Linked DNA regions of Homo sapiens. The protein of the gene in region 4 interacts with the protein of the main gene of each other region in a pairwise test. Each region holds a gene or a part of one and is shown on either strand. Other genes may lie near its edges.

Region 1 (5,579 bases), on a different chromosome or scaffold from region 4:
GAGATTGAACCAAGTCTAGTGCTCTATAAAGTCTGCTCCCTGTAATGTTGCTCATCCATGATTCATGATAGTAAGCTGGAGGCAAAGCAAAGACCATTGCTTCGATGTCTGTGTATATCCTCAGCCTTCCAGAGACAAAGCCACATATAAGATAAGCTTCTTGGCTGGGCTTGGTGGCTCATGCCTGTAATTCCAGCACTTCGGGAAGCCAAGGTGGGCGGATCACAAGGTCAGGAGATCGAGACCATCCTGGCTAACATGGTGAAACCCCGTCTCCACTAAAAATACAAAAAATTAACTGGGCGTGGTGGCACATGCCTGTAGTCCCAGCTACTCAGGAGGCTGAGGCAGGAGAATCGCTTGAATCCATGAAGTGGAGGTTGTAGTGAGCCAAGATCATGCCACTGCACTCCAGCCTGGCGACAGAGTGAGACTCCATCTCAAAATAAATAAATAAATAAATAAATAAATAAGATAAAAAATAAAAAATGAAAGGCTTCTCCTAGCAGCCATGGGTCTTCATAGCTAGAAGACATCAGAAACCCAAACCCATAGGGCTTCAGACTAGATGGAAGATAAAACAGCATAGTCTATGGCTAAGAGAAGAGATTCTGTAGTCAGTCTTCTTGGATTTGAATCCTGTCTCAATCATTTTCCAGTGGAGGGATCTTTGGCAATTCACTTAGCTTTTCTTTGCTTTGGTTTCTACTCTTTCAAATGTGGATAGCAGAAATTATTTGTATTAGTTATCTATCACTGTGTAGCATATTAGCCCAAAATGTAGTGGCTCAAAGCAATAAACATTTATCATCTCACAGTTTCTGTGGTCAGGAATTTGGGACGAGGCTTATCTGTCTGAGGGTCTGTCATGTGGTTGCAGTCAAGATATAGGTTGCAGATACAATCATCTAAAGCCTTGACTATAGCTGGAGGATCCGCTTCCAAGATGGCGCACTCACATGGGTGTTGTCAAGAGTCCTCCATACTTTCCACAGGGATCTCTTCTTACAATATGGCAGCAGATTACCCCCAGAGCATGCGAGAGAGGAGTAGCAAGGAGGAAGCTCCAATGACTTTCATGACTGATTCTCAGCAGTCATGTACTGTTCCTTCTACCACATTCCATACATTAGAGGGAAGCCACTAAGTATAACCCACATTCAAGGGGCGGGGAATTAGGCTCCACCTTGTGAAGAGAGGAGTATCAAAGAATTTGTGGACATATTTTAAAACCATCACACTATCTTGTAGTATTGAGTGAGAATTACACAAGATAATAATTGCAAAGTGGCCGGGCACAGTGGCTCACACCTGTAATTCCAGCAATTTGGGAGGCTAAGATGGGAGGATCGCTTGAGCCCAGAAATTCAAGACCAGACTGGGCAACATGGTGAATCCCTGTCTTTACAAAAAATACAAAAATTAGCCAAGCGCAGTGCTATAGTCTCAGCTACTTGGGAGGCTGAGGTGGGAGGATCACTTGAACCCAGGCTGGTTTTAAAATATGTCCACAAATTCTTTGATATTTCTCCTTTCAAAAGGTGGACCCTAATTCCCCTCCCCTTGAATGTGGGTTATACTTAGTAATTCCTTCTAACATATAGAATATGATAGAAGGAACAGTATGTGACTGCTGAATCCAGGAGGCAGAGGTTGCAGCAAGCAGTGATTGTGCCATTGCACTTCAGCCTGGTAACAGAATGGGACTCTGTCTCAAAATTATGATGATGATGATGATATTTATAATTATAATAACAACAATAATTACAAAGTCCTTAGAACAGGACCTAAGCATCACCAAAAATGTTTTCCCCTTCTCCTCCTTTGAATTGCTTACCTCATGGGTAAGAAAGGACATATTAGCTGTCAATCTGAAGGCTTTGGCCTGAAAAATCTCTTTAAAAAATAGAGCAGATATTTGAATTCAAGTTAGTGCCATATGCCACTAAAATTATCTATATAATCTTGACCTGAAAAGTTGTTCATGGTGTGCTTTGAATTTTTAAAAGCAGGTACAGAACAGAATGACCAACATTATCTGGTATTTGCATAGTTATACACATATATCTCTATGTATGTTGATGCATAGGGAGTGTTCTGGAAGGAGGTTTCTGAAAGTATTGATAATAGTTATTGCTGTGTGATAGGATTTGTTAGGATGTTGAGCTAGGACACTGCTGCTCTGTGTGGGCTGGTTTATTCCCTGCAAAGAATATGATTTCTAGGGTTTCCAGTGATTTTTCAGAGTAGTTGTAGAGACATGAATATACTGGGAGCCTCTCACCCTTGAGGCTGTGTTTGTGCTTGAGGGAACACATATAGAAGGGATTAAGGGGTAGTTGATGACTCTTTGGGAAAAGAGGGTACGGGAGAAGCAAGGGGAAGAAAGACATCTATTTGTCAAAGAGCAAAGGCAAGGCAAAGCTGGTGTTGGCAGCAGAGCGTGACTGCTGATTAGTTTTCTCGGGAGCAACTGCTTCTCCTGGAAGGGAATGATATGCTCATCATGGGCACCTTCTAGTCCTATAGTGCCTTGTATATCCTTTATAATTGTGTTTCCACATTGGATAGAAATTTTTTTGATTCCCTCTCTCTACTAACAGAGTTACAAGCAGTGCAGGCTTGTTAGTGATAAGTTATTTCAGCTTTATATGCCTGGAAAAGTTTTTACTTAATTTTTATTTGCAGAAGACATTTTTGCTGGGTATAGAATTTGAAGTTGACAGTAGTTTTTCTTTCAGTACTTTAAAGATTTGTCCACTCTCTTCTGGATTGCATTGTTTCTGATTAAAAGTCTGCTGTCATTCTTATCTTTGTGCCTCTTTGCTTAATGTGCCTTATTTCTCTAGCTTCCTTGGCCTCCCTGAAGTCTTAACTATTTCTCTTCTACTCAGGTAAATTGTTGGATTTTATCTGAGTTTCCCTTCCTTGCCTTGTTGCCTGGAAACTTTCTAAGCAGTAAGCTAGGGCATTTATAGGGCTCACTTCTTTTTTTTTTCTTCTTTCAGACATCAATGTCTGTGTTGCTCGTTGTTCAATATCTGAAAACCACTGGGTTTTTTTCTGATTTTCTTTTTAGTTATTTAAGGTGGATGAATAAATCTTGCCCTTGTTACTCCATTTTGGCTGGAAGCAGAAGTTCTGAAACATTAAATAAAAAAAAAATACTAAAAACATAAAAACCAACTTCTGATTGCAAAAAAAAACCTTTTTTCTCAAAATTGTCTGTATCTTAGGATTGTGAGATCATTTTTTTAAAAACTCACTGAGTGCCACAGTGTTTGACATTATCTCTTTTCTTACAGGAAACAGGAATCATTCAAACTGGATTTTAAAATCATTGCAAATCAGTGATGGATCAGAAGTTGCAGAGTGCAATCCCGAGTAAAAGTCTTCAAAAAATTTTGCTTCAGGTAACAGAGGAAGGAAAATTGATCTACCACCTTAAAACCCTGATCTAGAAAAAATATATATTCATGATAGGAAGTTATAACTAAGAAAATTTATTTGCCTCTTAATGCTCCTGAATGAAAGGAATTATCCCTTTGTTCTTTGGGAGGACTTGTGTATCTGAGATTGTTGTAATAATCAGTCATTTTATTAAAACCTTGACATGATCACCAGGGAGGAAAAATAGAGCAATAGTCAAAACCTGTGTGTTAGTCCAAGATGACTTCTGAAGAAATGACAGCTTCTGTTCTCATACCTGTGACTCAGAGAAAAGTGGTTTCTGCCCAGTCGGCTGCAGATGAAAGTAGTGAAAAGGTCTCAGACATCAATATTTCAAAAGCACATACTGTCAGACGAAGTGGGGAGACTTCTCATACCATCTCACAACTGAACAAACTTAAAGAAGAACCTTCTGGAAGCAACTTGCCAAAGATTCTCTCAATAGCGAGGGAGAAAATAGTGAGTGATGAGAACAGTAATGAAAAATGTTGGGAGAAAATCATGCCAGATTCTGCGAAAAACCTTAACATTAACTGCAACAACATATTGAGAAACCATCAGCATGGCCTTCCTCAGAGACAATTTTATGAAATGTACAACTCTGTTGCTGAGGAAGACTTGTGTTTAGAAACTGGAATTCCTTCTCCACTGGAAAGAAAGGTGTTCCCTGGAATTCAACTGGAACTAGACAGACCTTCCATGGGCATTAGTCCTTTAGGAAATCAGTCAGTGATCATAGAGACAGGCAGAGCACACCCTGACAGCAGAAGGGCAGTATTTCATTTTCATTATGAAGTTGACAGAAGAATGTCAGACACTTTCTGTACCCTATCAGAAAACTTAATTTTAGACGATTGTGGAAATTGTGTACCACTACCTGGGGGTGAGGAGAAGCAAAAGAAAAACTATGTGGCATATACCTGTAAACTGATGGAATTGGCCAAAAATTGTGATAATAAGAATGAGCAGCTGCAGTGTGATCATTGTGACACCTTGAATGATAAATACTTTTGCTTTGAAGGCTCTTGTGAGAAGGTTGACATGGTATATTCAGGTGATAGCTTTTGTAGGAAAGACTTTACTGACAGTCAAGCTGCCAAGACCTTTTTGAGCCATTTTGAGGACTTCCCTGATAATTGTGATGATGTAGAAGAAGACGCTTTTAAAAGCAAAAAGGAGCGATCCACTTTGTTAGTCAGGAGATTCTGTAAAAATGACAGAGAAGTTAAGAAATCTGTGTATACTGGAACAAGAGCAATTGTGAGAACTCTGCCTTCTGGCCACATTGGGCTGACTGCATGGAGTTACATAGATCAGAAGAGAAATGGTCCCTTACTGCCTTGTGGGAGAGTAATGGAACCCCCGTCAACAGTGGAGATAAGGCAAGATGGGAGCCAACGTCTGTCAGAAGCCCAGTGGTATCCTGTAAGCATTTGAGTTTCTTTTTACCATTTCTTTAAACTTGCTTTTTTTTTCAAAAAAAAGTCCAAATTTCCATTGTCATAATTGATGAGAAATTTTAAGATCTGTCAAATTATGATTCTTAGGTTAAGCATTTGTGGTTATTGAAAACAGATACTCCAATTGATAGCTATCAAGATTGAGTTGATACTGCAACAACATAAAAGTGTGTCAGAAAATAATGTTATTGGGAGTGGAGGAATTAGGGAGATTTCCTGGTAGTGGAAAAATGGCTCCATTTGTTGCTTATCTGTTTGTGTTCTTTTGAGATAAATGCCTGGGTCCTGTTCTATGGTGTAGTTCATTATTGTTTTTAGGTCTCCAGACCTAACAGAACTTAATTCTGTTTTTTTTCATTTTCCAACTAATGGCCCCACTTCCTTCCCTCTTAAACTTTTTTATGCCCTGGATTCCTTTGGCAAAGTGATGAAACCTATGGATTCAGAATGATGTTTTTAAATGAATCAGATGAAATAGAAATCATCATAAAGGACAAGTTATGCGGATATACATTTATCATGATTTTTTTAAATTAACCTGACAATTTAGGTGCTTCTTTATTAATACATTTAATAATAATATCTAGTTATGTGATAACTATCATAATTTCAAAATAGAATTAGCCCTCATCTGTATCCACAGATTCAACCAACTGCATATAGAAAATA
Region 2 (5,579 bases), on a different chromosome or scaffold from region 4:
AGCTGACCCTATATCCAGATAGACAGTGTCAGAATGGAATCAAATATGAGAACACCCATTTGGTGTCTGTTGCAGAATTGTTTATTTGATGTGTAGAGGAAAACCCAATACATCCAAAATCACAGAAGTATTTGTATTATGGAAGCAAAGCAGGAGAAACTGAGTCTGTTTTTCCCATATTTTCCTACGCATTAAGGACTTTTGAGCAAGTTATGTCTCCCTAATTCTGTCTTATTATTCTTTTACCTAAGAGGTTGTGATATCCTCTATATCAGTGTCGATTTCTCAGTTTTATGGGCAATAAGTATACAAATAAAAAACAGAAAACAAGGTTATCTCTATGGAAGTGTTAGACATTATGTTTGACATACTGAGTGATATTCAATAACTACATGAACTAAATAAGCACAACTGGTATCTTAAGAAATGATAATGCGGCCGGGCGTGGCGGCTCATGCCTGTAATCCAGCACTTTGAAAGGCCGAGGCGGGTGGATTACTTGAGGTCAGGAGTTCAAGACCAGCCTGGCCAACATGGTGAAACCTGTCTCTACTAAAAATACAAAAATTAGCCAGGCGTGGTGGCAGGCGCCTGTAATCCAAGCTACTCGGGAGGCTAAGGCAGGAGAATCACTTAAACCCAGGAGGTAGAAGTTGCGGTGAGCCGAGATCACGCCACTGCACTCCAGCCTGGGTGACAGAGTGAGACTCCATCTCAAAAAAAGAAAACTGTACTGAAGTGATGCTGTCTATAAGACAGAGGAGTAGGAAGTCCCAAGCACTACCCATGGAGACACAGATTTAATAACACTACATGGACCAAATTGTCTTTGTGGGAAATCTGGCAACCACATCAGAGGTCAGAACTCTTTTGAAACACCTGCTCACCTGAGGCCCTATCCTGCCATGATGTAGTATCACTGTGAGAAAACCACACTTCCATTTTCTCCTGGGGAGAGAAAGTATGGGAATATCCATCTAACATTCTGACTTTTTTTTTCTCTTTTTTCCTGTAACACAACACAAGGCTCATAACGTTCTGACTTTTCAGGGCACTGCTAAGGGACAAGTTTCTGTCTTGCCTGAATATAAACACTGAAGTAACAGGACCCCAGGTAAGGAAGCTACTGAGAACAAAGCCATCCGTCATAAACCAGAGCTTGTAGTAACGTACGCAGACATTAGGTGGCGGTGCAGCCCCCAGCTTACTAGGACACCAGCGAGGCTGCGGAACAGCCGGCAGACAACAGAGGCATTCCTGCATACAAACTGGCACAAGCTCTTTAGTTAAGCTACAATCAAAAAGTCCACGGAGGACGCATCCTTAGAAAAGGCTTGAGGGATCTCCAGAGCCTCTAGTCAGGATGACTGTAGCATGTCTTCCCTGAAGGAAGCCAGAATCAAAAACTACAAGTGGCTGATTAGTGAAATGCTGTGGTCCCAACAGGAGATAACGAGATATCAAAAGAAGCCAGGCACGGTGGCTCACACCTGTAATCCCAGCACTTTGGGAGCCGAGGCGGGTGGATCACGAGGTCAGGAGTTCGAGACCAGCCTGGCCAAAATGGTGAAATCCCGTTTCTACAAAAAATACAAAAATTAGCCGGGCGTGGTGGCGGATGCCTGCAATCCCAGCTACTCAGGAGGCTGAGACAGAGAATCGCTTGAACCCGGGAGGTGGAGGTTGCAGTGAGCTGGGATCCCACCACTGCACTCCAGCCTGGGTGACAGAGTGAGACTCCATCTCAAAAAAAAAAAAAAAAAAGCAAAAGAAAAAAAGAAACATGGACCATATGCAGCAACATATTAAATCACCACAAAGTAATACTAAAGAAGCAGATATATATATATATACATTATCAAAGAAATAACAATAAGACTCCTAAAGTTGCTCAGTGTATTAAGACAGTACTCATAAACAACTTCAGAAAATCAGAAAAACAATAAATATGAGATTATCAACAAAGAGATAAAAATTATGAAGAAGAAACAGAAATTCTAGAGCTGAAAAACATAACTGAATTAAAAAACACACTAGAGCCAGGCGTGATGGCTCACGCCTGTAATCCCAGCACTTTGGGAGGCTAAGGCGGGCGGATCACGAGGTCAGAAGTTCGAGACCAGCCTGGCCAACATGATGAAACCTCATCTCTACAAAAATACAAAAACTTAGCTGGGCATGGTGGTGGGCACCTGTAATCCCAACTACTCGGGAGGCTGAGGCAGAAGAATCGCTTGGACCCAGGAGATGGAGGTTGCAATGAGCTGAGATCGCACCACTGCACTCCAGCCTGGGAAACAAGAGTTGCCACCTCAGGGGAAAAAAAAAATACACAAAATTAGCTGGGTGTAGTGGCATGAGCCTGTAGTCCCAGCTACTCAGGAGGCTGAGGTAGGAGGATCATTTGAGCCTAGGAGGTTGAAGGTACAGTAAGCTATGATCATGCCACCATATTCCAGCCTGTGCTACAAAGTGAGACCCCATCTCTAAAAAAAATAAATAAAAGGAGAAAATGAAATAGAAGAATGATGAAGATAGCCAGGCATGGTGATGTGTGCCTGTAATCCCAGCTACTCAGGAGGCTGAGGCAGAAGAATCAGCTGAACTCAGGAGGCAGAGGTTGCAGTGAGCCAAGATCACACCACTGCACTCCAGCTTTGGGTGACAGAGTGAGACTGCATGTCAAAAAAGAAAAGAAAAGAAAAGAAAAATGAACAAATGAACATAGCCTAAGGGAAGTGTGGAACACCATCATGTGGTCAACTCCAATGTCAAAGTAAGAAGAAGGAGTATAAGAGAACTTAACCTACTGTGTCTGAGTGAGAAAGAAAAAATCTGTATACTCTCATAAGTAGTAAGGCAACTGGAGCAGCAATCAAAAAAAAAAAAAATCCTAGAACAAAGACCAGGAACACATGCATAACTCATAAGCACTGTACAATTCTACTCAATGTTGAATGAAGAATTAACAATTCTCAAACAATTCCAAATAAGTGAAGAAGAGGAAACAACAAAAAACAATTGTATGATACCACCCTTAGTCTGACACCACCCAAGCAAATATATGACAAGGAAACAAAAGTGTAAGATATTATTCGTGATAAACACTGATGCAAAAGCCCTCAACAAAATACTAGGAAACCAAATTGTAAAGACATTAACAGGATTATAGTCCATGACCAAGTGGACTACACACTGGGAAGACAAGAGTGGTTCAACAGAAGAAAGTCAATGTAATACACCACACTGACATGGTGAAGGACCAAAACCACATGCTCATCTCAATCGGTGCAAAAAAAAGTTATTTGACAAAATTCAACATAGTTCATGATAAAAATGCTCAACAATTCGGGCACGGTGGCTCACGCCTGTAATCTCAGCACTTTGGGAGGCCAAGGCAGGTGGATCACCTGAGGTCAGGAGTTCAAGACCAGCCTGACCAACATGGAGAAACCCCGTCTCTACTAAATACAAAAATTTAGCCAGGCATGGTTGCACATGCCTGTAATCCCGGCTACTTGGATGGCTGAGGCAGGAGAATCTCTTGAACCCGAGAGGCGGAGGTTGCAGTGAGACTGTGCCACTGCACTGCGCTCCAGCCTGAGCAACAAGAGCAAAACTCCATCTAAAAAAAAAAAAAAAAAAAAAAAATAGGCTCAACAAATCAAGGAAACTTCAGAATATTAGATTTGGCAAAGATTTCTTGGCTATGACACCAAAAGGAAACACAATAGCAGCAAAAAAAAAAAAAAAGGGACTGCATCCAACCGAAAAACTTTTGTGCATCAACAGATGCTACCAAGAGTAAAACAGTATGCCTGTGACAAGTCCTAGCCAGAGCAATCAGGCGAGAGAAACAGAAGGCATTCAAACAGAAAGAGGGCTGCATGCAGTAGTTTGCACCTGTAATCACATCACTGTGGGAGGCCAAGGTGAGAGGGTAGTTTGAGTCCAGGAGTTCGAGACCAACATGGGCAACATAGTGAGACTCTGTCTCTATTTTTTAGCAACGACAACAAAAACAACAAACGAAAAGGAAAAGGAGGAAGTCAAATTATCTCTCTGAGAAGGATATGATTCTGTATCTAAAAAACCCTAAAGATTCCACTAAAAGACTCCTAGACCTGATAAATGACTTCAGCAAAGTCTCAGGATTTAAAATCAAGGTACAAAAATCAGCAGTACTTTTTTTTTTTTTTTTGAGATGGAGTTTCGCTCTTGTTGCCCAGGCTGGAGTGCGATCTTGGCTCACCACAACCTCTGCCTCCCCGGTTCAAGCAATTCTCCTGCCTCAGCCTTCCTAAGTAGCTGGGATTACAGGCATGCACCACCACGCCCGGCTAATTTTGTATTTTTAATAGAGACTGGGTTTCTCCATGTTGGTCAGGCTGGTCTTGAACTCCCGACCTCAGGTGATCCGCCTGCCTTGGCCTCCCAAAGTGCTGGGATTACAGGCGTGAGCCACTGTGCCCGGCCCAGTCAGCAGTACTCTTAAACGCCAATAATGTTCAAGCTGAGAAACACATCATCAAGAATGCAATCCTATTAAAAATAGCCACACCCCCCAAAAAATGACTAGGAGTATGTCTAACCAAGGTTGTGAACTATCTCTATGAGGAGAACTACAAAATACCAGTGAAAGAAATCAGACAACACGAACAAATGGAAAAGCATTTCATGCTCATGGGTTGAAAGAATCAATATCAATGAAATGTCCAAACTGCCCAAAGCAATCTATAGATTCAACAGTATTCCTATTAAATGACCAACATCACTTTTCACAGAATTAGAAAAAACTTCTAAAATGTATATGAAAGCAAAAAAGAGCTCAAAGAGCCAAGACAATCCTAAGCAAAAGGAATAAAGCTGGATGCATCACATTACCTGACTTCAAACCATATTGCAAGGCTACAGTAAACAAAACAGCATGGTACTGGTATAAAAACAGACACATATACCAATGGAATAGAACAGAGACCCCTAAAATAAAGGCCCACACCTCCAACCAACTGATCTTCAAGAAAATCAACAAAAATAAACAATGAGGAAAGGATACCCTATTCAATAAGTGGTGCTGGGAAAACTGGCTAAACATATGCAGAAGAATGAAACTGGATCCCTATCTCTCACCATATAAAAAAATTAACTTGAGATGGATTAAATACTTAATATAAGACCTCCAACTATAAAAATCTTAAAAGCAAACCTAGGAAATACTCTTCTAAGACTTTGGCCTAAGCAAGGAATTTATGAAGACCTCATAATATATGCAGCAAAATAAATGCAGCAAATAAAAGGAATTTATGAAGACCTCATAATAAATGCAGCAAAATAAAAAATAGACAAGTGGAACTTAATTAAAGAGCTTGTACACAGAAAAACAAACTATCAACAGAGTAAACAATCTACAGAATGGGAGAAAATACTTGCAAACTACGCATCTGACGAATAACTAATATCCAGAATCTATAAGAAACATAAGCAAATCAACAAGAAGAAGACAAATCACCCCACTAAAAAGTGGGAAAATAGCATAAACAGACACTTCTCAAAAGAAGTCGTACTATTGGCCAACAAGC
Region 3 (5,579 bases), on a different chromosome or scaffold from region 4:
GTTTTTCTTAAATCTTGCCTTTATATAGAAATAATTTTTTTTTAAGTTTTGGAGTAGGCTCTTGTAGATTTTGCTTTTATTTGTAAGGAGACTACACTTAAATTCTTCTAGCTTTCAGGATGATACTAGTGTTGTTTTTAAATAATAAATTTTCTGAGATAAAGTGGCCTAGCACATAGTGTGTAGTCCTGATAAGATAAGTAAGTCCTGACAAGGTAAGTAAGCAACAAAGAGGAAGGGGCCCAGGTGGGGGAGAACAATGAGTAATTACTCTGAGAGATGACCTCCTACAGGTAGCCCCAGGAGCACGGCTACATTCTGCAAGCAGTCCCCTCCAGCAGGACCATGTAAAACGTCCCTCAAGCCGCTGCGTCTTTGCAGACTTCCCCTTCTCTGCTGTGCTGCTCACTGCAACCTTGCAACATATTTTCACACTTTCTCCAATAAATCTGCCTTTACCTATGACTGTCTTGGTAAATTCCTTTACAGCCCGTGACACTGGCCCCAACTAGTCACGCCCACGACATATAGTTTTATTTTATTTTAATTTTTTAGAGGCAGGGTCTCACTATATCATCCAGCTGGGATTGCTGTGCTGTGGTCACCGCTCACTCCACCCCTGAACTCCTGGCCTCAAGCCGTCCTCCCACCTCAGCATTCCAAAGGCGGTGGGATTACAGGCATGAACCATCACATCTGGCCTGCACATGGTATATTTAAAAGGCCATGTGATTTTGACTTTATGTCTTTTGTTATAAGTAGTCTCAAAGGATTTTTTAAGGAAGCCAATTATACTCAATTACAAACCATTAACTGTTATCCTTTCCCATAAATTTAAGTTCTTACAGAGTTTATTTGATTCAATATTCTCAAAGAAATCTATTTAATCAAAAACTCATTTTTACTCAGCTTTAATCTAAGGTGTCAGGCCTCTGAGCCCAAGCTAAGCCATCATATCCCCTCTGACCTGCAGGTACACATCCAGATGGCCGGTTCCTGCCTTAACTGATGACATTCCAACACAAAAGAAGTGAAAATGGCCTGTTCCTGCCTTAACTGATGACATTACCTTGTGAAATTCCTTTTCCTGGCTCATCCTGGCTCAAAAAGCTCCCCCACTGAGCACTTTGTGACCCCCACTCCTGCTCGCCAGAGAACAACCCCCCTTTTTCCTTTACCTACCCAAATCTTATAAAACGGCCCCACCCCATCTCCCTTCACTGACTCTTTTCAGACTCAGACCGCCTGCACCCAGGTGAAATAAACAGCCTTGTTGCTCACACAAAGCCTGTTTGGTGGTCTCTTCACACGGACGACAGTGAAATAAGGTGTTCAACAAAAAAAGCTAAATGTTATTGATACAGAATACAAGGAAACTGAGGTTTCATGAAATTAATGACAACTGTTTACACAGTTCCTGATCTGTAAAAGAACAGTAGTTCCTAGTATTGACCAAAGACTCCATTCAGTACCTAAGGTTAATTTTACCTGCATTATTTTGTGAAGGCGGGTCACATACACTTTGCTGATTACAGAACATCAAGATACAAAGCAGGTTACAGAAATGTTTCATTTCCCCTCGCCATTTCAAGGACTCACTGAGTTTACCCTGTCGCTTACAAGCATCACATTTGGCCATCTAAAAAGAAGAAGGTAGTCAAGGAGTAAGAAACAAATTATCTGTGGTCTGACAAAATAAAAATAAGACACACATAACAAGTGACGAAATTAACTTAGAATTTAGATCAAAAAATTAGTTTGTCTTTATCAATGATTATACACACACACACACACACACACACACATATATATATATATTTTTTTTTTTTTTTGAGACAGAGCCTTGCTCTATCGCCCAGGCTGGAGTGCAGTGGCGTGATCTCAGCTCACTGCAAGCTCCACCTCCTGGGTTCATGCAATTCTCCTGCCTCAGCCTCCCAGGTAGCTGGGACTACAGGCGCCCGCCACCACACCCAGCTAATTTTTTTGTATTTTTAGTAGAGACGGGGTTTCACCATGTTAGCCAGGATGGTCTCGATCTCCTAACCTCATGATCCACCCGCCTCGGCCTCCCAAAGTGCTGGGATTACAGGCGTGAGCCACCGCGCCCAGCTGATTTTATACTAATTTTTTTTAAAAAACACATGTAACATACAGACTTCACTCTATAGCAATTAAAAAACAAAGTGAAATAAAAATAAGGTCTATCTTCCTCAGACTTCAGAAGACAAATTCACTTTATTTAAATAATAAGTGAATAAAATTATAAGTTTAAATATTTTAATGTCTTAAGACTGATATGTCTCCTACAGGAAATTAAAAACAAAAGAAAACTTCAATAACATTAAAGTCTTTCTAAATCTTATATTAATTGCTAGAAGGCATAAAACATTTAATACTTAAAAGTTTTAAATAATTAAATTGTCCTTTATGTGACATGAAATTTTAAAAGGGAATAATTTATGCCCTAGAATGAAAAACCCAGGAATGTGAATTCTATTTACCTGATAGAACAAAACTGTATATTTGGACATGCATTCTTCACAACAGAACTCTTCCACTTTCCCTCCTAAATTATTCTGTACCAATTTGGGAGATGTCTGTAAACAATAACTGCACATTTTACAGTGATTTCCCCAGCGTTTTGCCAAGTCATGTTTATAAAGCAATTTGCAACCTAAAAATCAGGAAAGATAAAATTAACATTAGGTAGAAGTATTAGTTTTCTGCAACTTTAAATGGCCTAGGACAGGCCCGGTGCAGTGGCTCACACCTGTAATCCCAACACTTTGGGAGGCTGGCGGGAGGAGTGCTTGAGCCCAGGAGTTTGAGACCAGCCTGGGCAACATGGCAAGACCCCATGTCAAATAAAAACAAAAACAAAAAAAAGAAAAATAAGTGGTCTAGGACAAAGTTTTCACACTTGGGTCCTGACCAGTTCACAGAGTATCTTGATTTTTTAGAGTATCTATACTAGTTTTTGTTTTGCTTTGTTTTTGTTTTTGTTTTAAATGATATAAGACAGGATAGCACAGAAGAGAAAATATTAAACTGCATCGATTTTATTTCATGAAACTTTTGGGGCTGGGCGTAGTGGCTCACACCTGTAATCCCAGCACTCTGGGAGGCCAAAGTGGGTGGATCACCTGAGGTCAGGAGTTGGAGACCAGCCTGGCCAACATGGTGAAGCCCTGTCTCTACTAAAAATACAAAAATTAGCCAGGTGTGGTGGCGGGTGCCTGTAGTCCCAGCTACTCGGGAGGTTGAGGCAGGAGAATCGCTTGAACCCAGGAGGCAGAGGTTGCAGTGAGCCAAGATCGCTCCATGGCATTCCAGCCTGGGTGACAAAGCAAGACTCTGTCTCAAAAAACAAAAACAAAAACAAAAAAAACTTTTATTTAGGTATGTGAAAATATACTGGGTCACAGTGTAAATGTATTTCTTCTTTGGTGTTATCAAAAGGTTTGAAAGCCCTTGCTCTAGAAGGCTAATACAGCTTTAGAGTAAAATAAAACATTATAAACATATAGAAGAGTTATCTAAGGAAAACAATCTTCCACATATTAATTTGCATATTCAAGCCATTTATATTCAGAAATATAATGGCTGTTTAAGACAATAAAAGTATAAACTTAGAATGTTACCATAATTTAAGGCATCCCATTTAGAAATAAGTACACGAACTAGAAGCTCTTTGAGGTCCCGATCAACCTAATAATGGGGAACCTAAGGATGTTAAATGTTTTTCACATCATCTTCTTCTGCATTATACTTTGCAAATCTTTCACTTCATTTTAACAGCTACATAATATAAGAAAACTAGATCAAAAAAGAATGAACTAAGTGTAAATGAATCGAAAAGGCATTTACGTTATACATAAACAATAAAACAGATTAACTTAGACAGTGAAAGCTTAAATCATCATCAACTGCTTTAAAACAACCAACATGCTCAGTAGGTAAGATAATCTTCTGTCTTTACCTTCACTACAGAATGACTTGTCAGCACCTGAGAACCGAACAGTCTCCTTTACAATTTTCTCAATTTTACAATATTCACACATTGCCATTACATTATTTATTTTCTTATATTCATCAGAACAATTCTTGCCACAGAACTGAAACATTTTGCCCTGCAAAGAAATAATCATTAAGTACTAATTAAACATTTGGTTTGTCTTATGGAACTCCTTATCTCCCTTACTTTCAAAACAAATGGTATGATTTTGAGAGATGCAAAGTTAAAAATAATTTTACAAATAGACCCACGTATACTCAAAATCTTATCATGAACATGCTATACTTTACCTTATAGTCAAGAAGTTCTGGTTTTGTGGCAAAAAGACGGTTACAGTGTTGACATTTGAGTTTCACAACACTTCGTGCAAACCCAACATGCTGGGACTGGGCAGCGAGACGCTGGAGACCAGCTGCAGCAGAGCTACTGATGGAGGTGGGAGAAACAGCAGATGTGCTACCTCCTCCGGCTGACACTGTGGAACCTGTGGGGATGCTTACAATTACTTGGCCCTGAGACAAGGGCACTACTGAAGAATTCATTCCAGTTGGTTTGTTGAATAAATTCTGGAAAAACAAAACAACAAAAAGTATCAATTTAATCTTTGTTAAAACAAAGAAGTATTGTGTGCCTACATATGCCAAGCACCGTTCTAGGCATGTAAGGTACATCTGTTAACAGGCAATGTTCCTGCCTCTGAGCAGCTTATTACGGAATGGGGGGAGTCTCATTTATGATGAAAAAATAAAATAACTTAACTAATAATCTTCCTCAAAAATAATATCCTCCCAATAGATAATATGGGTGATAAAAGTACCATTCAATTTTATAGAAGGCAGTTAAATTAAATTCCAAATACAGAATGAACTACAAATCCAAGTTTAATAGGAATGATATAGAAACTTATACAACCCAGGCCCTAGCAAACACCTAATAAATGTGCATTACTATAGTAGGTGATAGGTTTGAATTCGTGTCCCTGCCCAAATCTCATGTCCAGTCGGTAATCCCCAATGTTGGGGGAGGAGCCTGGCAGGAAGTGACTGGATCATGGGGGTGGATTTCTCCCCTGCTGTTCTGGTGATAGTGAGTTCTCACTATCTGGTTGTTTAAAAGTGTAGCACCTCCCGCTTCTCTCTCTTCCTCTTGAGCCCATCATGTAAGACGTGCCGGCTTCCCCTTCGCCTTCCGCCATAATTGAAAGTTTCCTGAGGCCTCTCCAGCCATGCTACCTGTACAGCCTGTGGAACTGTGAGCCAATTAAACCTCTTTCTTTATAAATTACCCAGTCTAGGGTATTTCTTTAGAGGAGTGCAAGAACAGACTCATACAGTAGGTGACTCACTGACTGAAGAAGAGGAAGGTTCCTGAAGCCATACCTGGAAAGCTACCACACAGCTGTAGCTGCAGAAGTTGCGTATACTTCCATCTGACATGGCTAGGTGATACTGAGGAATTGCTGAGGTTTTACAACTGTTACACTGAACTTGTACACCTTAGCAAATCAAAATAAAAACCAATGAGTAATATGTACAAATGTACACAAAAGTATGAGAAATTA
Region 4 (5,579 bases):
TTTTGTTCCAGCTGCCAAGAAAACACAAAAGATGATGATTTTCCAGGCCCAGAGAAGGGCATGAACAGCACTGAGGCAGGAAATCATCATTTTCAGAAAAAGGCAGTGGGTTAGAGAGACAAAGGCTAAGGAAACAGTGTGTGACAAGGCTATGAAGATGGGTTGGGCCAGATCACAAACAGCCTTAAATTCCAGGCGCTGGAGTTTGGACCTACTTGACAGGCAATAAGCAGCTTCTCAATATTTTGAAAACATGTGACCAAAGTAGTTCTTTAGAAAAATCTGAAACCAACATGGATGACAGATCAGTCAGGTGCACCTGCACTGTACCTGCACAGAAAAACAAATCCTGTTGAATCTACTGCACTGAGAAGGAGAAACAGCTAGCTGTGGCAAAAGCTGCAACTGCCTACCCAATGTCCATTCTCCCTCCCTTCCTCACTGTATTAACAAGGCAAATTTTAAAATGGACAGCAATGTGCCCAGCTTTAAAAGTAAGCAAACAAAAACAAAACAACAGCTACATTTACCAATGAGAAATAAACATATCTGTTTAAGTAGTTGGTAACATTTGTCACTCAGCTGATGCATTGGTAAGGAAGCCCGTCAATAGGAAGGGATCTCTCTGGGGAGGAAAAAGTTGCAAGCACCAGCACATGTGGCTAGGAATACCAGGTCTTCAACAACACTTCTGAAGTGTTCTTCAAAAGGAATCACTTGAAAGAGACTGACATCCAGGACACCTGTAATAGAACAATTCTGGGCCAATATCCATAATTCATTCAGACATTTCCAAATGTACTATGTTAATGGGCTCAGCTATAGGTCTTGGTCCTCAAGGTATTTACTCTATACTGTAGACAAAAAGATAAAATATATACACACAACAAACTGTAACAATGCAATGTGAATAAAGTAACAGAGCAAACCAACGTAATATAGCAGAGGAGACCCCACAATACAACCACATCTTGGGCTGTATTCCTAACCCTGCTGTTAACTGACTTTCGGCCTTGAATAAACTATTTTACCTTCTAGGCAAATCCTGTCCTGTAAAATAAAGAAGCAGTGTATTTAAATAAAGGGCTAATGCAGGGGACCCACTAAAGTGCATGAGTTCAGTAGGTTCCAACTTTTTCACATATAAACCCACTTTTTAAATGTTAAATAAATTTTCTTAGATCTTCATGTCACCATGATTGTCTTTTTAGCACGTTAACAGATAAAGCATGCACTATATAAATACTACCACGAATTCCACAAACCCTTTAAAAGAATCTGTACTTTATCAGCCAGGCGCGGTGGCTCAAGTCTGTAATCCCAGCACTTTGGGAGGCCGAGGCGGGCAGATCACAAGGTCAGGAGGTAGAGACCATCCTGGCTAACACGGTGAAACTCCGTCTTTACTAAAAATACAAAAAATTAGCCAGGTGTTGTGGCAGGCGCCTGTAGTCCTAGCTACTTGGGAAGCTGAGGCAGGAGAATGACTTGAACCCGGGAGGCGGAGCCTGCAGTGAGCCGAGATCATGCCACTGCACTCCAGCCTGGGCAACAGAGCAAGACTCCGTCTCAAAAAAAAAAAAAAAAAAAAAAAGGAATCTGTACTTTATCACCTGTTAAATGAAAATTAGAAACATTCACAAAACATCATTTGTTCCACTTCAAACACTTAGTATGTGCATAGATTTTTTTTTTCAAGCCAGTTGGAATAAGTTTACAGTCCACAGGACACTGGCTCTGCATTCTCTCAAGTCTTTCCCAGTCTTAATACTATCATCTTATGTTCATTTGAAAGATTTTCAGAACCAGGGTGAAAAGGAAATCAGTAAGAAAGGAGTGAAAAAAGAAAACGATGGATTCAAGAGAAAATTCGAAGGTAAGAACTCAGCAAGAAGGTGGCTATAGGGAGGGAAGGACAGGAAGAAACAAAAGCAACCATGTTAGGTGCCATTAGCAGCAGTATAAGTCCGGAGGAAAAGAACCAGGATGATGGGAAATGATGACTTCATTGAGCATCTACTATGTTCCTGGCATGGTGTTAAATGGTTTAAAAATGAAAACATACACGATTTTAAAAATCAAAACAGTACAAAAAGCTATACAACAAAAAATGTCCCTCTCATCCTGGATTCTCAGGTGCCTAGACTCCCTCTCCAGAAGCAACAATCACTAAAAATTTCATCGGTATCCTTTCAGAAATATTTGCATTTGCCTTCATATTTAGTTATCACAACAACCTCTGAGACAGGTGGGATTATTTTATAAATTAAGAATCTGAGGCTTAAAGACGCTGACAGGGCCAAAGTCAAAGAGCCATGAAGGGACAGAACTAGGACTAGAACATGGACCCAAACACTCATGCACATACTAACTCTACACTCAGAAAGCTATGAAAACTCTGGTAGCTGGGTGCAGTGGCTCGCGCCTGTAATCCCAGAACTTTGAGAGGCCGAGAAGGGCGGATCGCTTGAGGCCAGGAATTCAACACTAGGCTGGGCAAGATGGGGAAACCCTGTCACTACAAAAAATACAAAATATTAGCCGGGCATAGTGGCATGTACCTGTTGTCCCAGCTACTCAGAAGTCTAAGGTGAAAGGATCACCTGACCCCAGGAGGTTGAGGCTGCAGTGAGCCATGATTGCACCACTTTACTCCAGCCTGGGTGACAGAGTGAGACCTTGTCTCAAAAACAAAACAAAACAAAAAACACTCTGGCAGAGATGTTCAAAGTGTTTGTGATAATTAAAAAATAGAACCCAAATAACCACTAGTCAAGGACTGGATGTACAAATCATATCACATGTACACTGTGAAATACTATGCAGCCATTAAAACTAAGGTTAAAAAACATAAGGTAAACCCAGATACACCGCTCTAAGACAGCTTGTTGAAGTAAAAAAGCAATTGCAAGAAATGGGGAGTTGGTATTTACTGGTCACAGAGTTTCAGTTTGGGAAGATGAAAAAGTTCTTGGAAGGAAGGGTAGTGATGGTTGCACAGCAACGTCAATGTACATAATGCCACAGAACTGTACACTCAAAAATGGTTAAAATAGTAAATTTTGTTTTGCATGTTTTCCCGTAACTTTTTTAATACTAAAAAAAGCAATTGCAGAATAGTATGACTATGATTCCATTTTTGTAGAAAGGGAAAGTATGTGTAAACATTACTTGTAAATGCATGTTGTCTGTTATCTTGCTTTACCTTGCCTGCTACTCAGACATCCTGAAAGCCCTGGATTCCTGGTGTGCTGATGCTGAGTCCCGTGCCTCCCACTGCCAAGCACATACTCCCAGCAGCTGAACTACTGCCTTCACCTTTCTTCCTACCTCTCACAGAATGCACTCTTCAGCACTTGCTTTATCTGCAGCTGTCCCGCCCCACTGTTAAATGTCACTGAAGACTCATCAAGCTCCAAAACGTGCTCCAACGTGAAAAAAGATGCAGGAAAATGACTCCCTTACTCATTCCTGCAGTAAGCTCCAGGGTGGAAATGTGTGATATGATCAAATAAAAGAGATGAGATTATATCAGAAAGAGTGAAAAGGAAACCTCTGTTGCTGAAGAATGCACAGTATATGGCAACAGGTAGTGCAGCTCCTGCTTCTCAAGTGTCTTAAAATTAAAGTTTTTGGAAGACAATGTGGCAACAGTCCAGCATATAATGTAGATGACATCCCTGTGGGTGGAAAACCACAGCTTAAAGTGTAGTTACGAGAACTATAAAACTAACAAAATGGTTTGAGATGTTTTTCCTTCTATTTAAGTGCAAACCTAGGTAAGAACATGACCTATACTGAGGTTTATTTATTTAAATGATTATCCAAAGAGCAAACACAACATTATTGAAAATAGAGGCTTTCAGAGTAAAGCTCGGCTCTCCTGTTACTGATCTGCTGCAGCTATGGAAGTTTCTCTGACCCAGTGGAGGGGCTCCAAGGTCCCCCTCTCTAGGAGGAAAGGAAAGCCTACTTGTTGTACTCACATTTAGCAAAGGAAAGAACTGCCCAGGAGACAGGTCAAGGGGCTACAGCAAAGGGAAAAGGGTGGGAATGATCAAATAAAATCAAGACAGCACAATCCTGATGGACAGTTTTCTCTAAGCCTGCAAAAACCGGAACCACCAGAACTGAAATGATCTTTTGTACCACCAAACTTTCCTTAGCTTTCTTAAAAATCAACAGTTCGATTTTCTCACCATACAAACAGGCACAGAGCACTGAAAAGTGTGAATACACTTAGGCCCATGGCATTGTCCCTCTTCATAATGGCACTGGCCATTTTCTTATCAGGGAAAATCCTGAAAGGCAGAAAGTTGCTTCTTCCATGGTGGTCCAAGTCTTAGTTATTACATCCTACTAAAACTAGCCAAAACTACAAGGCACACACTACCACAAGCATTCAAGAGCAATTTTAAGAGAAACCTTGTATTTGTTCCTTTTTAAATATCCCCAATACCTGCATATCCTTCATCATTTAGGATTATGTCTTTAACAGTGGTTCTTAAAGTATGGCCTTGAACTCCTGAGGGTCTCCAAGACCTTTCTAAGGGATCCGAGAGATCAAAACTATTTTCATCATACTAAGATATTCCTAAGAAGTCACTGTAGCATTGTGGACTGTGTTGACACACAGATAGTGCAAAAACAACAGTCGGTACAACTGCTGGCCGCTTAGCACTAAAGAGGGCCGTGGTACTGTCCCTGAATTCTTTACCTTTATGTACTCACAGGAAAATAATGTCAATTTCACTTTTTAAGTGAAATGGTACAGTCATGCTGGAAAAAAACTGTCAGTTTCTCAAAAAACTAAACATACGATTTCTGTACAACCTGCCAATTGCACACTCTTGGACATTTATCCCAGAAAAGGAAAAGTTACATTCACATAAAACTTAGACAGGCTGAGCACAGTGGCTCTAAAATTCCAGCACTTTGGGAGGCTGAGGTGGGTGGACTGCTGGAACCCAGGAGTTTGGGACCCCCAGACTAGCCTGGACAACATGGCGAAACCCTGTTTCTACCAAAAAAATACAAAAATTATCCAGGCATGGTGGCGTGTGTCTGTAGTCCCAGCTACTTGGGGGACTGAGGTGGAAGGATTGCTTCAGCCTGGGAGGTCTAGGGTGCAGTAAGTCATGATCATGCTACTGCATTCCACTCCAGTCTGGGTGACTAAGCAAGACACTGTCTCAAAAACAACAACAAACACCTGTCTATTTGTTCGTAGTAGCTTTCTTAATAGCCCAAAACTAACAGCCTGAATGTCCTTCAAACATGTGAACAGTTAAACTGCTGTACATCCATACCATGGAGCACTACTGAGCAACAAAAAGGAACAAACTATGACATGCACAACAAATAGCGTATGATTCCACTTACATGAGATATGAGGTACCAGCAGTAGTCAAAGTCATAGACAGAAATTAAAATGATGGCTGCCAGGGACTGGCGGGAGGAGGGGAATGGAGAATTATTGTTTAATAGGTACAGAGTTTCAGTTTTGTAAGATAAAGATTTCTGGACATGTATGATGGTTACGGATGCACAATAATTTGAATGAACTTATTACTCTCCCT

Evidence for each region.
Region 1: the proteins of LIMS1 (region 4) and PLCE1 interact in a two-hybrid assay, tested with the Homo sapiens proteins (one large-scale study listed by BioGRID and IntAct).
Region 2: the proteins of LIMS1 (region 4) and ZNF160 interact in a two-hybrid assay, tested with the Homo sapiens proteins (one large-scale study listed by BioGRID and IntAct).
Region 3: the proteins of LIMS1 (region 4) and ZMYM4 interact in a two-hybrid assay, tested with the Homo sapiens proteins (one large-scale study listed by BioGRID and IntAct).

Annotation. Positions count from the first base shown.
Region 1 is NC_000010.11:94,027,378-94,032,956, forward strand, and holds part of PLCE1 (1-phosphatidylinositol 4,5-bisphosphate phosphodiesterase epsilon-1), read left to right. Parts: intron 1-3,305; 5' UTR 3,306-3,669; coding exon 3,670-4,875; intron 4,876-5,579. UniProt on the Homo sapiens protein: The production of the second messenger molecules diacylglycerol (DAG) and inositol 1,4,5-trisphosphate (IP3) is mediated by activated phosphatidylinositol-specific phospholipase C enzymes.
Region 2 is NC_000019.10:53,075,923-53,081,501, forward strand, and holds part of ZNF160 (zinc finger protein 160), read right to left. Parts: intron 1-5,579. UniProt on the Homo sapiens protein: May be involved in transcriptional regulation.
Region 3 is NC_000001.11:35,386,008-35,391,586, reverse strand, and holds part of ZMYM4 (zinc finger MYM-type protein 4), read right to left. Parts: intron 5,514-5,579; coding exon 5,398-5,513; intron 4,585-5,397; coding exon 4,309-4,584; intron 4,134-4,308; coding exon 3,983-4,133; intron 2,678-3,982; coding exon 2,505-2,677; intron 1,640-2,504; coding exon 1,489-1,639; intron 1-1,488. UniProt on the Homo sapiens protein: Plays a role in the regulation of cell morphology and cytoskeletal organization.
Region 4 is NC_000002.12:108,536,209-108,541,787, reverse strand, and holds part of LIMS1 (LIM and senescent cell antigen-like-containing domain protein 1), read right to left. Parts: intron 1-5,579. UniProt on the Homo sapiens protein: Within the IPP (ILK-PINCH-PARVIN) complex, binds to F-actin, promoting F-actin bundling, a process required to generate force for actin cytoskeleton reorganization and subsequent dynamic cell adhesion events such as cell spreading and migration.